Linked DNA regions of Homo sapiens: region 1 is linked to region 2. Evidence: fine-mapped expression QTL. Tissue or cell type: cerebellar hemisphere. Region 2 holds a variant in brackets; the other region holds the start of a gene. All regions are shown on one strand. Distances are from middle to middle.

Region 1 (8,108 bases), 570 kb before region 2:
CATTTTTAGTGTAGTTTTAGCAGGGATTTTGTGGGATATTAGACCCTTATATGACTCGTAATAAAGATGATATGCTAATGAGATACTCTTTGATTCCTTGTGTCTGCGTTCAGCTAATTATAACTTGGAGAAGATGGGTGATTGGTGTTCTGTGGCCTTCAACATTCATGGCCATGAATCTTCAGAAAAATTGTAAATATAATACACTTGGTGTTTGGGTTCCCTCAGGAAGATGATGAGGGACAGAGTTTGTGCCATGTGGCCATGTGGAGAAGAACTTTAATGTCATGCAGGAAGCAAGAACCTGCTCTTCTATCCAGATGTCTAGTATTTTCACATTCTGTAACCTGAAGCTGTTGACTTCATAGTTCTAGTGATGCAGAGTAACTTCAGAACTTGAGATGGAGAAAGTAAATCTACTTCATAAATCACAGGGTTATCTTCTTATTTCAGCTCTGTTGATAACTTCATGTTATAAGATATTATCTTTTTCTCTTCTTCACTGAAAACAGACCTTGGTATATAATTCTAAGATTGGTCTGGATTCATGGTCCTTCAATTTCTTTAATGTTTCCAAAGAGTTTTGTGTGTGTGTGCAAACACTTCTATACAAAAACTGGTATTTGCTTCACTTCCCCCTTCTAATCTCAACCCCTAGTCCCTTCTTTTATTAATCAACTCCTAGAAGAGTGACTTGCAGTATGTGTATATTAGAGCAATAATTCTTGCCAAAAAGTATCCAGAAGTAGATTTATATCAGAATTTGAAATATAAGGGATTCAGAGATTCTGCAGGACTTATAATATCTTCTTACAGTGTTACTTCAGAATTAAATAAAATGAGAGAAAGTAAAGGGTATAGTATCATTCCTGGCACAAAATACACATGTACTATTATTATTATTTTATTTTATTTTATTTATTTATTTATTTTTGAGACAGAGTCTTGCTCTGTCGCCCAGGCTGAAGTGCAGTGGCGCGATCTCCACTCACTGCAAGCTCCACCTCCTGGGCTTACGCCATTCTCCTGGCTCAGCCTCCCGAGTAGCTGGGACTACAGGTGCCCGCCACCATGCCCGGCTAATTTTTAGTATTTTTAGTAGAAATGGGGTTTCTCCATGTTAGCCAGGATGGTCTCGATCTCCTGACCTCATGATCCACCCACCTTGGCCTCCCAAAAGTGCTGGGATTACTGGCATGAGCCACCATGCCCGGCCTACATTTGCTATTATTAATACTGTCCATTGAGAATAGCAAAGATAGATTTAAAAACCCGAAAAAATATATATTTATTTTATAATTAAAAACAAAATAGAGGGTGGCCGAGGCAGGTGGATCACTTGAGGTCAGGAGTTTGAGACCAGCCTGACCAACATAGTGAAATCCTGTCTCTACTAAAAATACAAAAATTAGCCGGGCGTGGTGGTGGGCGCCTCTAATCTCAGCTACTGGGGAGGCTGAGGCTTGAGAATCACTTGAACCTGGGAGCAGAGGTTGCAGTGAGCTGAGATCGTGCCACTGCACTCCAGTCTTGGCAACAGAGTCAGACTCTGTCTCAGAAAATCAAATCAAATAAAAACAGAATAGAAATCTCAAATCTATCTCCATACTTAATTTCTAGCTTCAGTGATGCAAATGACTTAATGGACTAAGACCACGTTTCATCACAGGCATAGAATATTATGGCTGGCAAGGCCAGTGGAAGGCATCCGACATAACTTCTTCATTTTACTTATGCACACACTGAGATAGAGATTGTCTAATTGGTTCCCAAGATTCTATCACTCTTTTCACTATTCACAGATGCAAAACATCTTGATGAAATCTGGATGTTTAAAAGATCTGGATATTTATTTTGGCCTCTGTAGATTTTTAAAAGAATGTTTTCACTTTTATTTTGCATGTTAGTCCCCATGTAGCCAAAGCCTTTATCCTCTTCAACAAAAAACTATGAGGTGCAGTCACTGCAATGTCTACAGAAAAACAAAGTTATGAGGTCACTAAAACCAAAGAGTTTGAAGCTGAAAAATTGGCTTTGATTATCATATGTCAGTAGAATGCCCGAACTGTGGAACTGATTCTTAGAGTAAATCATTACTAATGGTTTTCCCATTGGGGGTGGGGGCTGCATGATTTCGATAAGATGACTCGGGGCCTGCGGTCACCAACTCATCCATGATTAAATGTTGCTTGTGAAAACTGTGGGTGATTTTCAGTTCTGACCAATTGAATACTTACAGTATATTCTGGGAAAGGTGTGTTTTGCTTAGGTGGCAACATTAGGAAAAAGGAAGAAGGATTTCCCTATGCCATTTTCAAAATGAATGTGATGGCTCCTTATCTCGTTTCTTTCATTGGTCTGCTAGTCCCATTATGTCAGGGATTATATTATTATAACATAGATTATCTTATTAAAACAGATTCTAACACAGAAAACAAAATCAAAATGAATTAAAAAACTACACTAGCCAAAATCTACATACTTCAGGAAACCTCCAATAAATAGCCATAATTTACCTAATATTTTGAATCATTGAAATGAAATCTCAGAACACAATGAATTCCATAAAAATGTTTTAATATACTCTTGTTATTTATCTCTAAATGCCTTTTAAGTTTCCCCCAGTTATTTATTGAAAATCTTTGCCTACAGCAGACAGTGCCGGATTTGAGCCTTGGCTCAGTTACTTTCTATCCCTATTATCTTGCGGGTAATCAGTTTCTTCATCTCCAAAATAGAGATGAAAATGGTCCTATCTCATGCGATTGTTGCAAGGCTTAATGAGAACATGGAAAGCACTTAGCATAGTGTCTGGTATGTAGCAACTACTCATCAAATGCATGCAATAATTATTGTCTGTCCATTTCGCTTTTCCATGGGGGGCAGGAACGTATATTGGGAAGCACATGGTGTCTGGAGTGAGTCTGTTCTGGGGTCTAGTTCTGAGTCAGCCACTTACTCCATGTGGCATCTTGAGAAATTTAATTAACCATTTGAGCCCTATTTCCTCATTTCTAAAATGGATATAATAATATCCAGTTCACTGGGTTGTTGTAAGCACAGTGCCTATTAAGTCCTCTTCTTACCAATCAATTATCAACAAGTGAACATTTATGAAGTCTATTCCAAGGACAATGCAAAGCACAAGGTGTAACAGGAAGTTTTAATAGAAAATAAACGCGCGTTCTCCACCACGGCCAAGGAGAGCATCTAACAAGTCATGCCAACCATGCACAATGAATTGCTGATGATATATGCAAATTAAAGTGGATCTCTAATCCATGCCCATTTATATTTTTCGAGTGTAGATGTGGATAAATTTTCAATGAGAGCCTTTTTCCTGGTATTCTTACAAGTCAGCAGATCTCCAAAGCCCAACTAAAATATGGGCTGATTAAAGACTCCAGAAAAACTGAAACAGTCGCAAACTGCTCGGTGGCCAGTGCCACAGAAACTAGGACGAAACGAGCCTCTTCTTTCTAACCAAGGGCAGATCTCAGGCTCTCTTGGGGAGGTAAAGCGGAAGGGTGAAATGCCGGTCAAGTTGCCTAGACTCTGATGGAAGCGGTGGCCAAAGGGCCCCTCCCCAGTGTCACCAGCCTCCCCATTCCTGTCACGGAGGATTTTCCTCAGGCGTCGTGACAGACCCGAGGCGTGTTGCCGGGGCCCGCCGGGCCGAGGAGGAGCCGACGCGGCCCGGGGAACTCCAGTCCTCACACGGTTAACGCTCTTCCAAGGAGAGTGGAGGAGGGAGGGTCCCCGCCCACGAGAACGAAGAGAATCTCAGGGCCGAAGCCCCGCCTCAGCCGGCCCGGCCCCTCCCCGCCAGCCCGCCACCCAACTCGGGCCGCACCAGGGGCCGCACCTGCCCGCGCGCACACGCCCCCCGCGCGCCAGGCCTCGCCGCCGCCGCCGCCCTCGGCACGCGCCCGCTGCGGCTGCCCCCCACCGCCCTGCCTCGGCGCGGGCCACAGCGCACGAGCCGCCGCCGCCGCCGCCGCGCTCCTCCCCGCCGCGGACGCCGCCCCCGCGTAACCGCCGAGGAAGCCGAGGCGAGCCCGGGTCGGGCGCGAGGGCGCGCGGGCCGCTGCTGCCACCGCGGGTGTTCCCTGCGCTCCCGCTCCAGCTAGGACTCTCTCTGCCGCCTCCTCCTCCTCCTCCGACCTCAGTCCTCACCACCCTCCTCCCGCTCCTCAAAAGCACCCCCGAGTCCCCACCCCCTCACGCCGCACCCGCGGGAACGAGGCCTTGGGAATTCAGGGGAGTGGCTGTGGGGGCGCGTCGCGGCTCCCAGCTCGGCCAGCCCCTCTTTCAAGACATGGTCTGATCCCCATTGTAAAAGCTGCGCCCCGAAGAGGAGGAGAGAGTCGTGCTCCCTGCCTGGGGCTGCAGGGAGCTCTCCGTGCTGAAGCTCTTGCATTATTTTAGGGTGGGGCGAAGAGGGCCCTGGATTTTGGGGAGTGGGGGTGGGTGGGGAGGAGGACCCGAGGGGGGCAAGGACTCTGTGGGGGAGTCGGTGAGAGACTATGGGGAAGGACCAGGAGCTGCTGGAAGCTGCTCGCACTGGAAATGTGGCTCTGGTGGAGAAACTCCTGTCTGGCAGGAAAGGAGGGATCCTGGGCGGTGGATCCGGACCCCTGCCCCTGTCTAATCTGCTAAGGTAAGGACGGGCACCAGCTCCGGGGTTGGCACACCTCATTATGCATTGTGATGGATATACGTCCTCCTCCTCACGGTTATTGCACCTGGTGGCTGCCAGCGATTCATTCTTAAATTAGGTAGGAAAACAGACTGCGTGTATGGAGAGGAGGTATGAGCCTCCCAGTCAGATTGATGCCTTAGATTCTTTGAGTAATTTTAAAATAGCCTTCCATCAATGCGTCAGTAAGCTACTTTTCCTCTGAGCCCTGGTGCAGAACTTGTACATGTACTAGTGTTGCTTGAAGAAAATCGACGTTCCGCCCGCTTTCCATCAACATTTATTACATATTTGCAGCTTTGAACGCAGCCTTTTTTGTCTAGTTAAATGAAATTGGCAGAGAATCTCTTGCGTGCATGCAATTACCCTGCAAAAGCCACAGCCTTCGGTGGCTCCTACCTTCTCTTGCAGAAGGCGTTTGCTGTGCCGTGGGTTATGATCCCACAAAATGAAGTGAGTGAACCTTCTTTCTGGTGAGATGTCTTCAGCACAGGGTGTGTATAAAACTTGATGGGGCAGGTTAGGCAGCCCCAGCAATACTTTCAGTTACCTGGACATAGCTGAGTGAAACTTGGTTGTTATAGCTCAGGATGAAGGATGCCAGGTTGGTATTGGGATACTGTATATGGAGTACGGTAGAGGCCTTTTAACGTGAAGATGTCGTAGGTGAGACTGGTATTGCTTGGAGAATCTTTCTAAGATGACATTTAAAAAAAATGTCAAGGTCTTCATTCAGCAGTACCTTGGAAATAGCGGGGTTGATTTCCATACTTGAGAAACTATTAAAAGTTGTATTGATGGACAAATGAAATCAACTGGGAGGGAGGAAGCCTGGAGAGTATTCACTAGATACAATTCAAGGGAAGCTCTTTAGTTTCTAAAATCGTGGCTATCCAATTTATCCTGGGTATTTTTGGAGTCATCAATTGTCATTCATATCTTCGCCTTAAAACATCTCTTGGATAACCCAACTATAGTTGTAAAAATTTTAGAAAGCCCAAGTGATTTCCCTGGTTTTTTAAAAACTGTTCCATGCTACCCTTGACAAGTGCTTAATAGAAACTTTTGGGTGATGACATTGCGTTCTTTACACAAGTTCTCATAGGTTGTGGTGGTCAGACAGTGCAATTAATTATAGGGCTAGCTAAAAGGGAAAATGGAAAGTTTCTATTACAGTGAAATAAATTGAGTTGAAAAATAGTCGATGGGATTTTAAAAAGCCCCATATGTTATTCTATATACTCGTTGACAGTGACATTTTATTGGAATGATAGTTCATGTCAGAAGAATGAATATTTATGGGACATTTTTTCAATAGGTCATAGAGATGACTTGTGTGTACTCCCTTGTTAAATAATCTTCTCTTTCAAACACAGGTAGACAATGTGTGCATATTTCAGATTGCAGCTCTAATAATTGCCTGTAGTCACATGTAGTTTATGTGAAAGCAATTTATCTCTTTACAGTTTTAAGTTACACGTAAAATAACAACGTTTGCTGTGGATCCATCAGTTATAAAAATGATTATGTCTAAAAACTGGTATGCTGAAAGAATTTTCTCAAAATAAACAATTTCTTCGGGAAAACATGAGGAATTATTTGAGAACAGTGAGAATTTCACTTAATTTTATTGTGATAAATCGTATTTTAAAAACACTCCTTGTGACAAAACTCAAAAGCAAACATCCTTTAAATACTCCTTTCCCAGCTGTGATTTTTTTTTTTTTTTTTAAAGAATAGATGTCAAGTTTTAGGGATAAAACACCAAGTATTTAATGTTAGTGGACACTAAAGTATCAAAATAGTGACCCACAGTGTATATCTTGAGTGAGAGGTTTTCTCTTTTGCTGGTGTAGTAGTAGTAGTAGTAGCTCTACAACAAAGATTGCACATAGAAAACAAAAGTAAACAACATGTGTTTATTAGAGTACTTCGAACCAAGTTGTAAAAATCACAAACAAAACCAATAACCTTTAAACTTGCTTTTATCCATCTTATACTGAATAGTGTCTGAAGAAAATGAGAGTTGAAATTGTATTCTTTGGGCAATCATTTGCATAAAATGACATTCCTAAGAAGGCACATTTTATTTAGTTGTCACTTTATTTCAAAAATGATTGTCATCAGAAATTTATTGGCAGGATAATGGAAAATGTGTCCCCCGTCAAACATAATGACACTTTGAAATTTCTTAATGTTTTAGAAGGAACTGTAGAATATGTTTGGCACTTTTTCCCCGCTTGCTTTATTACCTGGGTTGTGTAATAATGGTGTCAGACCCTATGCTAAGTGCTTACACGTGTCATCTCATTCAATTCTTGTGTCAGCCTTAGGAGGTCCATTGTCATTTCACAGATGAAGGAATAAAAAGATAAGATTAAGGACTTGCCCATGGTCACTTAATTAATAATGGCAAAGATTTGAAAATCTGTGATTCAGATTTGTTTTACAACATTTTAAGTCTCATTCATTGAATCTGTTTTATTCACAAAAGTTTAAAGGTATGTGGCCAATTTAGACAGGCCAATCTGAACATTTTTTGCTATGAAGAATAATTTGAAATTCCTTAAATTTTGGTATTTTTTTCTAATTAAAAAAATCTCACAACTGCCCTTTGAGGGTTCACTAGACAAGAACTTTTCTGAAGATGCTTCTGATTACTTGTTATCTACTGGTAATAAGAAATTATCCTTTCAACAGTAACTATGTAATGGGGAATCAGGTATGCTTTTGGGTGGCACTGCAATTTTCAGCAAATGTAAGAATGCCATTGAATAAATTTAAAAACCTCTCTAAGCCTCACTATTCTATCAGAGTGGAAATAGTAATAATAGTACCTATCATATAAGATCATTATAAGGATTAAATGAAGTATAAAGTAATGAATGCAAAACATTTAGCATATAGGTGTTCATCGTTAGTGTTAATATTTTTCATGCACCTCTAAAGCACTTGACTGTATTCTTTAAGGCCTTAATGACTAAAGATTTGCTTCCTATTGGACTGGGAGTAAATTTCCCATAGCAATCATAGAATCGTCAAATAAGGAGGGAACTTTCTTCCAACTTCTCACCTAGTGCGGAAATTTTCTCTGTAACATTTCTTACCTGTTAGTTATTCCAGCCCTGTTAAACCTTCCAATGACTAGATTCATTCTATTTTTGACAGCTGTAATTATTTTAAAATTTTTCTTTTCATTGAGCTAAAATCCACTTCCCTGTGACTTTCAGCAATTGGTAGTAGATTGGCTGTATGGGTCAATATAAAGCAGTCTAATTCATCTGCAGGATAGTTCTTTAGATGCATGTATTTTTGTTTTCTTATAAGTATTTTTCATGGAAGAGCTATCATCTCTGTTAACCTTTTATATGGCAAGACAGCATAGATGTTAAGAACTTAGTTTTCATAC
Region 2 (8,108 bases):
GCACATCACATGGCAAAAGCAGGAGCAAGAGAGAGAGTGGGGTTGGTGGGGAGGTGCCACACACTTAAACAACCAGATCTTGTGAAAACATTGCCACGAGGACAGCACCAAGACATGAAGGATTTGCCCCATTGACCCAGTCACCTCCCACCAAGCCCCACCTCCAACACTGAGGATTACAGTTCAGTGTGAGATTTGATGGGGACATATATTCAAACTATATCACTTGGGTTTGTTTCTAAAGCAAAATATGTCTAATGACTAACTTCTTTCTCAGAAGCTGAAGTCTGATGTTTCCTCTTCAAGCTCCTAACAGCCTCTTAACTTTCTGCTCCTGTAAACAAGTCACCACAGGGGCTCTTTAACCTCCTAATGCCATGCTTTCTAAAAAGGCTTATTGTGATTAATTGGAGTGTATCTTCTCTTCTTTTTCCCCCTTCTTTGTGGTCCCTCATTGCCATGAGCCCTCACTCCTCCAAATCAGAGATGGTGGGCTATTTAGAGAGGTTCTACCAGGGTCTCTGCCACTTATTTCCCATCAGAGACGCCCCCGGAAGGTTTCTACTTAGAGCTCTTACTGCAATTTCCAGGGCAGCTCTCTTAAACACTGATAAAATAAGTCTGTGTGCTGTATTTTCTTCCGAACCTATTGATTTCCTCTTTTCCTTCAACCTTCACCTCTGTAAATTGTGTCAGGGAGATTCTGCTGGACTGTTCATGTAATTTGGTGATTCTGCCATTTATTAGGAGGGCTGCCTTATGATTTAACTCATCAATGTCTTCTTTCAGTTAGATCCTACTTATACTAAAATATTACAGTGGGAGAAGAAGATGAATACTTATCAATCCTTTACTAATTTAGGCCTTATTCTAGTCTTTCATTTACATTATCTCAATTAATCCAGACAATAATTCTGTGGGGAGGCTTATATAATCCTCATTTTGTGAATGCAAATACTAAACTGTAAATACCGACATTAGGATCTGAATCCAATTCTACTTTGCTGCAAATCCTATTTTGTCTCCCAAATATGTGTTAATAAGTTTAACCCATAGGAATTAGTTAGAAACATAAAGGTACTTTTTAATTGAGGATACCAATTTTTTCATTGATATGAAGATGAAGAAAGGAGTTTTAGAATTAGAGACTATTTCAGAACTTAATGATTTTGTTTCCTTGAGGGAAATCCAAATGAAATTTACATACAAATCATAACAATTCTTGATTATTTAGAAGCTTATTACTGAGTTTATGTATTTTTTAACACTTGCTTTATATACTTATACCCCTTCATATCAACCTTTTGAATATTCCTTTGCCAGGAATGAGTCAGGAAAAAAAGACAAACTTTTATTAATGGGCATTTTTATAACTGTTTTAGAAAAATAGCAGAAAAGGAGTTGAACTTGTTAGCTAAAATTAATTGTAATACTTATCTTCACTTTAAAACTTATTGCTATCATATTATGACACAAATTTTTATGACCCTGATTATATTTTACTCCAGGGGAAGTGCTATGTGCTTATTCTTAAAACTTCACACCATCTTAAATTTATTCACAGAAGTACTTATATTGTCACATCTTTCTGGTTTAAACCTTAACTTTATTCTACCTACTAACATATTTATTACTTTGTGATAACCCTCGTGGTAAATGCTTTTACAGATACTCTGGGGAAAATATTCTTTTAAACTATCATTAAGCTAAAAAAGTTCTGTTATTTTTATTGTATAGGAAGACATTTTGGGTAATTATAGCAAAAAGACAGAATGATGTAATGGAAAGTGTATTCATGGCTTTTAAGTGTTGAGAGAGCTGGATTCTAAAGCTGTCCAATAGTTACTGAGTATCTTTGACACTCAGTTTCCCTGTCTGCCCATCTGTGGAGTTTTTGTAGGATTTAGATGAAAAAAAGGTAGGATACCTGAAACAGAATGTATTTCATGGGCACTATTACTATAATAGTAAAGAGATGACTTAAGAATTAGAAAGCAGGCTGGGTGTGCTGGCTCATGCCTGAAATCCCAGCATTTTGGGAGGTCAAGACAGGAACATCACTTGAGGCCAGGAATTTGAGACCAACCTGGCAACATAGCCAGACCATATATCTACAAAGAGTTTTAAAAAATTAGTTGGACACGGTGGTGTGTGCCTGTATTGCTAACTACTCAGGGGGCTAAGGTGGGAGGATCGCTTGAGCCCAGGAGATTGAGGCTGCAGTAAGATATGATTTTACCACTGGACTCTAGCCTGGGGGATAGAGTGAGACCCTATCTCTAAAAACAAGAATTAGAAAGCAGAATGACCTTTGAGAAGTTAAAAACCAAAAGCAATGCCCACTCTTATTTGTAAAAATTTTCTTTCACGTATACAGCAATATAAGCTTTTATTAATATTTTGGCTGCTAGGAACATATCTTCTGTAAATCATTATATTGTTATTTCCTACTGTTCTTAAAGTGAAACTGAGAGAAAAAAGAAAGACACAAATTACCTATATCAGGAATAAAATAGGGATGTCACTACAGACCCTGAAGACATCAAAAGGATAATAAAGGAATATTACAAACTATTCTACATACATAAATTTGACAACTTAGCTAAAATGGATCAATTATTAAAACAAACTACCACAATTTACCCAATATGTAATACATAATGTGAATAGCCCTACAACTATTAATGAAATGGAATTCATAATCAAAAAAGCTTTCAAAAAATAAATCTCCAAGCTCACATTGTTTTGTTGGAGAATTATAACAACATTTAAAGAAGAATTAACACTAACTCTAAACAATCTTGTCTTGAAAAAAGAAAATGGGGGAATGTTTTCTAATTCATTTTATGACCTAGTATTCCCAATTCCACATACACCCACACCCCAGAGCAATATTCCTCATGAATATAGACAAAAAATTCCTAACAAAATATTAGCAAATAGTATTCAGAAATGTATTTTTAAAATTATATACAATTACAAAGTGAGGTTTATTTTAGGGATGCATAACTCATTCAATATTTGAAATCAATAAAGAAGAAAATCCACATAATGATATTAATTGATACACAGAAAGCATTCAACAAAATTCAACACCCATTCATGTTGTTTTGTTTTTTAAGACCTCTTAAAAGAATAGAAATTGAGGGGAATTTTCTCAACTTGATGAAGAGCATCTATAAAAAATCTACAGCTAACATTATACTTAATGGTAAAAACATGAAGACTTTCTTTCTAAGATTAGGAACAAAGCAAGGATGTCCACTGTGCTCACCACTGTCACTCAACATAGTGCTGGAAGCTCTAACCTGTGCCAAGAAGAAAAACAAAAAAATAAAAGGCATACAGATTTGGAAAGGAAAACTGAAACTTCCTATTTGCAGATGACATGATTGTCTTCGTAGAAATCCGAAGCAAGCTAAAAAACAAAACAAAACAAAACAAAAACAGCACTCCTGTGACTAATAAGTGAGCTCAACAAGGTCACGGGATGCAAGATACACATAAAAAAATTGTATTTCTGTGAACTAGTTATGAACATATATACACAGAAATTAAAAATACAAGGTCATTTATAATCACAAATACAAAAAGAAAAAATAATAATTAGATATAAATCTAACACTTTTATCCAAATCCCTCATTTTATGTTTTGGATGTCAAAATTTACATCATTTTGTAATTTGTATCCCCTGATTATTTTATTTATAGTTGTTTTAATAGATGTCTATTAACCATTGTACTAGAGATAAAATTGCTTTGCATACCAACATTTTTGTCCAGAGTATTCTGAATGTGATTCTGTAATGCTTATACCATTGAGTGTTGTGCTTTTGCATGTTTTATGTTATTAATTAGTGGCCTTTTGATACAGCTTAAAGAACTCCCTTTAGTAATTTCTGTGAAACAGGCCCAGTGATAATGAACTCCCTTAGCTTTTGTTTGGGAAAGTTACTATTTCTCTCTCATTTCTGAAGGACAGCTTAACTGATTTAAGTATTCTTGGTTGGCAATTTGTTTTCATTTAGCAGTTTGAAGATATCATCCTACCCCTTTCCTAGCCTGCAGGGTTTTTCCTGATAAATCCACTGATAGTTACATTGGACTTCTTTGTATGTGATATGTTTCTTACTTCTTGCTGCTTTCAGAATTTTTTCTTCGTCTTTAATTTTTGATAGTTTGATTATGAGCCTCGGTGAACTCCTCTTTAACATGTACAGGTCTTGTATACTGAAAACTACAAAACACTGATGAAAAAAAATGTTCAAAGAAGTGGAAAGACATACCTGTTTATGGATTAGAAGACTCAGTGTAGCAAAGATGTAAATTGTTCCAAATTGATATTTAGATTTAACATAATTCCTATCAAAGTCACAGCAACACTTTTTTGTAAATATAAGATTATTCTAATATTTGCATAGATACGTAAAGTAACTAGGATAACTAAAAAAAAATCGAAAGAGAAGAAAAAAGTGGGAGGAATCAGTCTA[C/T]CCAGTTTCAAGATTTATTTTATAGCTACAGTACTTAAGACAATGTAGTATTATCAGTGAAGGGATAGACACTTAGATCAATAGGACAGAAGAGAGAACCCAGAAATATACCCATACACATAAACCTGACTGCTATTTGACAAAGGTACAAAAGCAGTTCAGTGGAGGGAAGATAGCCTGGTGCTGGAGCAGTTGGACATACACAGGCCACAAGTTGAAACTTGACCTAAGTCATATGGCTTATGTAAAAATTAATTCAAAATGGATAATTGACTTAAAATATAGAACTATAAAACTTTTAGAAAAAAATAGGAAAAAAATTTCTGGGATCTAGAGTTAGACAAAGAGTTCTTATACTTGATACCAAAGACATAATCCATAAAAAAATAAATTGTCCTGATCCTCTCCTTCCTCCCAAATATAAATGAGCTTGGCATGGCAACGGCCACAGAGCACGTGTTTAAGAAGTGATAGTCCCCAAATCAGAGGGGGCCTGACTGCATGCCAGTAACCTCGCTCTCAAGAGCCTGCCCTTCTCCCTTTGCACTGTCTCCCTCCCCACCTCTGTTTATGCTCTATCAAAGAATAAGGTGTGACTAGCACCTCTGGTTAAAAAAAAATGTACTTCATTAAAGTTAAAAACTTTTGCTCTGTGAAAAACCCTATTAAGAAGATGAGAAGACAAGGTACATACTGGAGAAAATATTTATAAATCACATATCTAACAAAGAATAATATCTAGAACTTATAAAGCACTCTCAAAACTCAATAGTATAAAAATAATCCAATTAGAAAATGGGCAGAAGACATGAAGAGACGTTTTACTGCAGAGGATATGTAGATGGCAGCAAATAAGCACAAGAAAAGATATTCAACATCATTATCCACAAGGGAGACGCAAAGTAAAACCACAATGAGATATCACTACACACCTATCAGAAGGGCTAAAATAAAAAATTGTGACAACACTAAATGCTGGCAAGGATACAGAGAAGCTCATAGATTGCTGGTGGAAATGTAAAATTGTACAGCAATTTTGGAAAACAGTTTGGCAGTTTCTTAAAACATTAAACATTGAACTGCCATACCAACCAGCATTTGTACTTCTGGGAATTTATCCCAGATAAATGAAAACATGTTCACTGAAAAATCTGTACACAAATATTTATAGCAGCATTATTCATAACAGCTAAAAACTGGAAACAACCCAGATGTCCTTCATTGGGTGAATGGTTAAACATCCATGTCATTGAATACTATCCAGCAATAAAATGGAGCAAGCTATTGATACACACAACAGCTTGGATGAATCTGCAGAAAAGTATGCTGAGTGAGAAAAGCCAGTCCTAAAAGGTTACATACTGTGTGATCCTATTAATATAGCATTATTAATGTGACAAAATTGTAGAACTGGATAACAGATCGGTAGTTACCAGGAGTTAAGGTGGAGGTGGGGGCAGGAGAGAAGTGAGTGTAGCTATAAAAGGGCAATGGGGCCTGGCGCGGTGGTTCACGCCTGTAATTCCAGCACTTTAGGAGGCCAAGGTGGGTGGATCACGAGGTCAGGAGATTGAGACCATCCTGGCTAACACAGTGAAACCCCGTCTCTACTAAAAATACAAAAAATTAGCCGGGCGTGGTGGCGGGCGCCTGTAGTCCCAGCTACTTAGGAGGCTGAGGCAGGAAAATGGCGTGAACCTGGGAGGCGGAGCTTGCCGTGAGCCGAGATCTCACCACTACACTCCAGCCTGGGCGGCAGAGCGAGACTCCCTCTCAAAAAAAAGGGCAATGGGAGGGATCCTCGTGGTGATGGAATTGCTCTGTTTCTTGTCCTTTTTACGATGTTGCACTATAATTTTGTGAGATGTGCCCACTGAGGGAATCTAGGAAAAAGAAACATGAGTGCACTCTATGATTTCTCACAATGGCATATGAATCTACAATTATTGAAAATAAAAAATTTAATTAAAAAATTAAGCTATTTAAAAAGCAGTGTGCACCTTTATTTGTAAAAATGTCTTTCTTTCACCCACACAGTGATATGTGCTTCCTATTTTAGCTGTTCAGAATATATCTTCTATAATCCATTGCATAATTATTTCCTGCTGTTCCTAAGATGAAACAAATCACTTGAAATTGTTGCTTTAAAAAAAGAACTTAAGTGTGGAAAATAAAGCTGGTTTTACTTATTTTAAATTCTGGATGCATTTGAAGTTGACATGAACATCTATAAAATATTAATATATAAGTATTTGCAATACCTAAGTCAAAAAGTATTTTTTGCAAAATAGTTGTGACTATTTTCATGCTGGGAAAGCTTCTATGAGGACAAACTCCATGGTTTGGAGGTCAAAATGCTTTTCAGGTCTTTAATATCTACATTGAGTCCAAAACTACTTTTGACCTTTATTAAATAAAACTAGAATAAAAACTAGAACTTTTATTATCCTCTCATGTGTGTATACAGTCTTTCCAATGAAGATTTGAATACATTGTATGAAGAAACTAACTCATACGAAGAAACATATATTACAAATTTTCCATCTAACAAACTCCACACTCATGCTTATGTATGTTAAATACTAGGGATAGACTTAACACTTTTAAAAAATCTATTTTGACAAGTTGCCCTGAAAAGGGCATATACCCATTTATACTCTCTGGAATACATGTGCAGAACGCGCAGGTTTGTTACATAGGTATACATGTGCTATGGTGGTTTGTTGCACCCATCAACACATCATTTACGTTAGGTATTTCTCCTAATGCTATCCTTCCCCTAACCCCTCACCCCCTGGACAGGCCCCAGTGTGTGATGTTTCCCTCCCTGTGTCCACGTGTTCTAATTGTTCAACTCCCATTTATGAGTGAGAACATGTGGTGTTTGGTTTTCTGTTCCTGTGTTAGTTTGCTGAGAATGATGGTTTCCAGCTTCATCCATGTCCCTGCAAAGGACATGAACTCATCCTTTTTATGGCTGCATAGTATTCCATGGTGTATCTGTGCCACATTTTCTTTATCCAGTCTATTATTGATGGACATTTGGGTTGGTTCCAAGTCTTTGCTATTGTGAATAGTGCTGCAATAAACATACATGTGCATGTGTCTTTATACTCTTACTAGTGATGTCTAAGAAGGGAAAGAGTTCAATTTTACTGGGGCCAGCAAAATGTCAGGCTCACTTAAGGCCTAGAGAAATGGTTTTCAAATTATTTAGCCAGAGAACTCTGTTAAAAGAAAAGTTTATGTAGGCTGAGTTATATGAAATTGCTATTTTTGCAGGTAATACGGTTGAATATCAGCAGTTTCATATGTTTCAACCTAACAGAAACCTAATAGGTAAAAGCAAAAAAAAAAAGTATAACTGCTCTGATTGATGGTGGAGTAGGGGTGTTCAGAGGACCTCAGAGAAGGGCTCAAGAGCAACTGTCTGCTCTCAGAAAGCCCTGGGCTTGAGAGCAACTGTCTGTTCTCAAAAAGCCCTGGGCAGGAAAGGCAGGTGCAGGAACCTGGAACTCTCAGGGCCTCGGTCAGGGTGTGTGTGTGGGCGAGGGTGGTGCACCGGGTGAGGGCCCTTGTTATGGAGCTGGCAGAGAGGAAGAGAACATCAACAGCTAG

Evidence for each region. PIP is the estimated chance that this variant, and not a neighbour inherited with it, causes the effect.
Region 1: ANKS1B starts here. The variant in region 2 is fine-mapped to the expression of ANKS1B in cerebellar hemisphere (GTEx, PIP above 0.99).

The regions. Positions count from the first base shown.
Region 1 is chr12:99,980,656-99,988,763 of GRCh38, reverse strand. It overlaps ANKS1B (ankyrin repeat and sterile alpha motif domain containing 1B), which reads left to right and starts at 3,828. Exons shown (of 27, transcript NM_001352186.2): 1 at 3,828-4,660. The coding sequence starts at 4,527. RefSeq lists a silencer at 3,806-3,855 and an enhancer at 3,968-4,798.
Region 2 is chr12:99,413,859-99,421,966 of GRCh38, reverse strand. All of the region lies in intron 11 of ANKS1B (ankyrin repeat and sterile alpha motif domain containing 1B), which reads left to right. Among named protein-coding and RNA genes, the nearest start is that of GARIN6, 230 kb to the left of the region's middle. The variant C/T (reference allele first, on the strand shown) is at 4,491.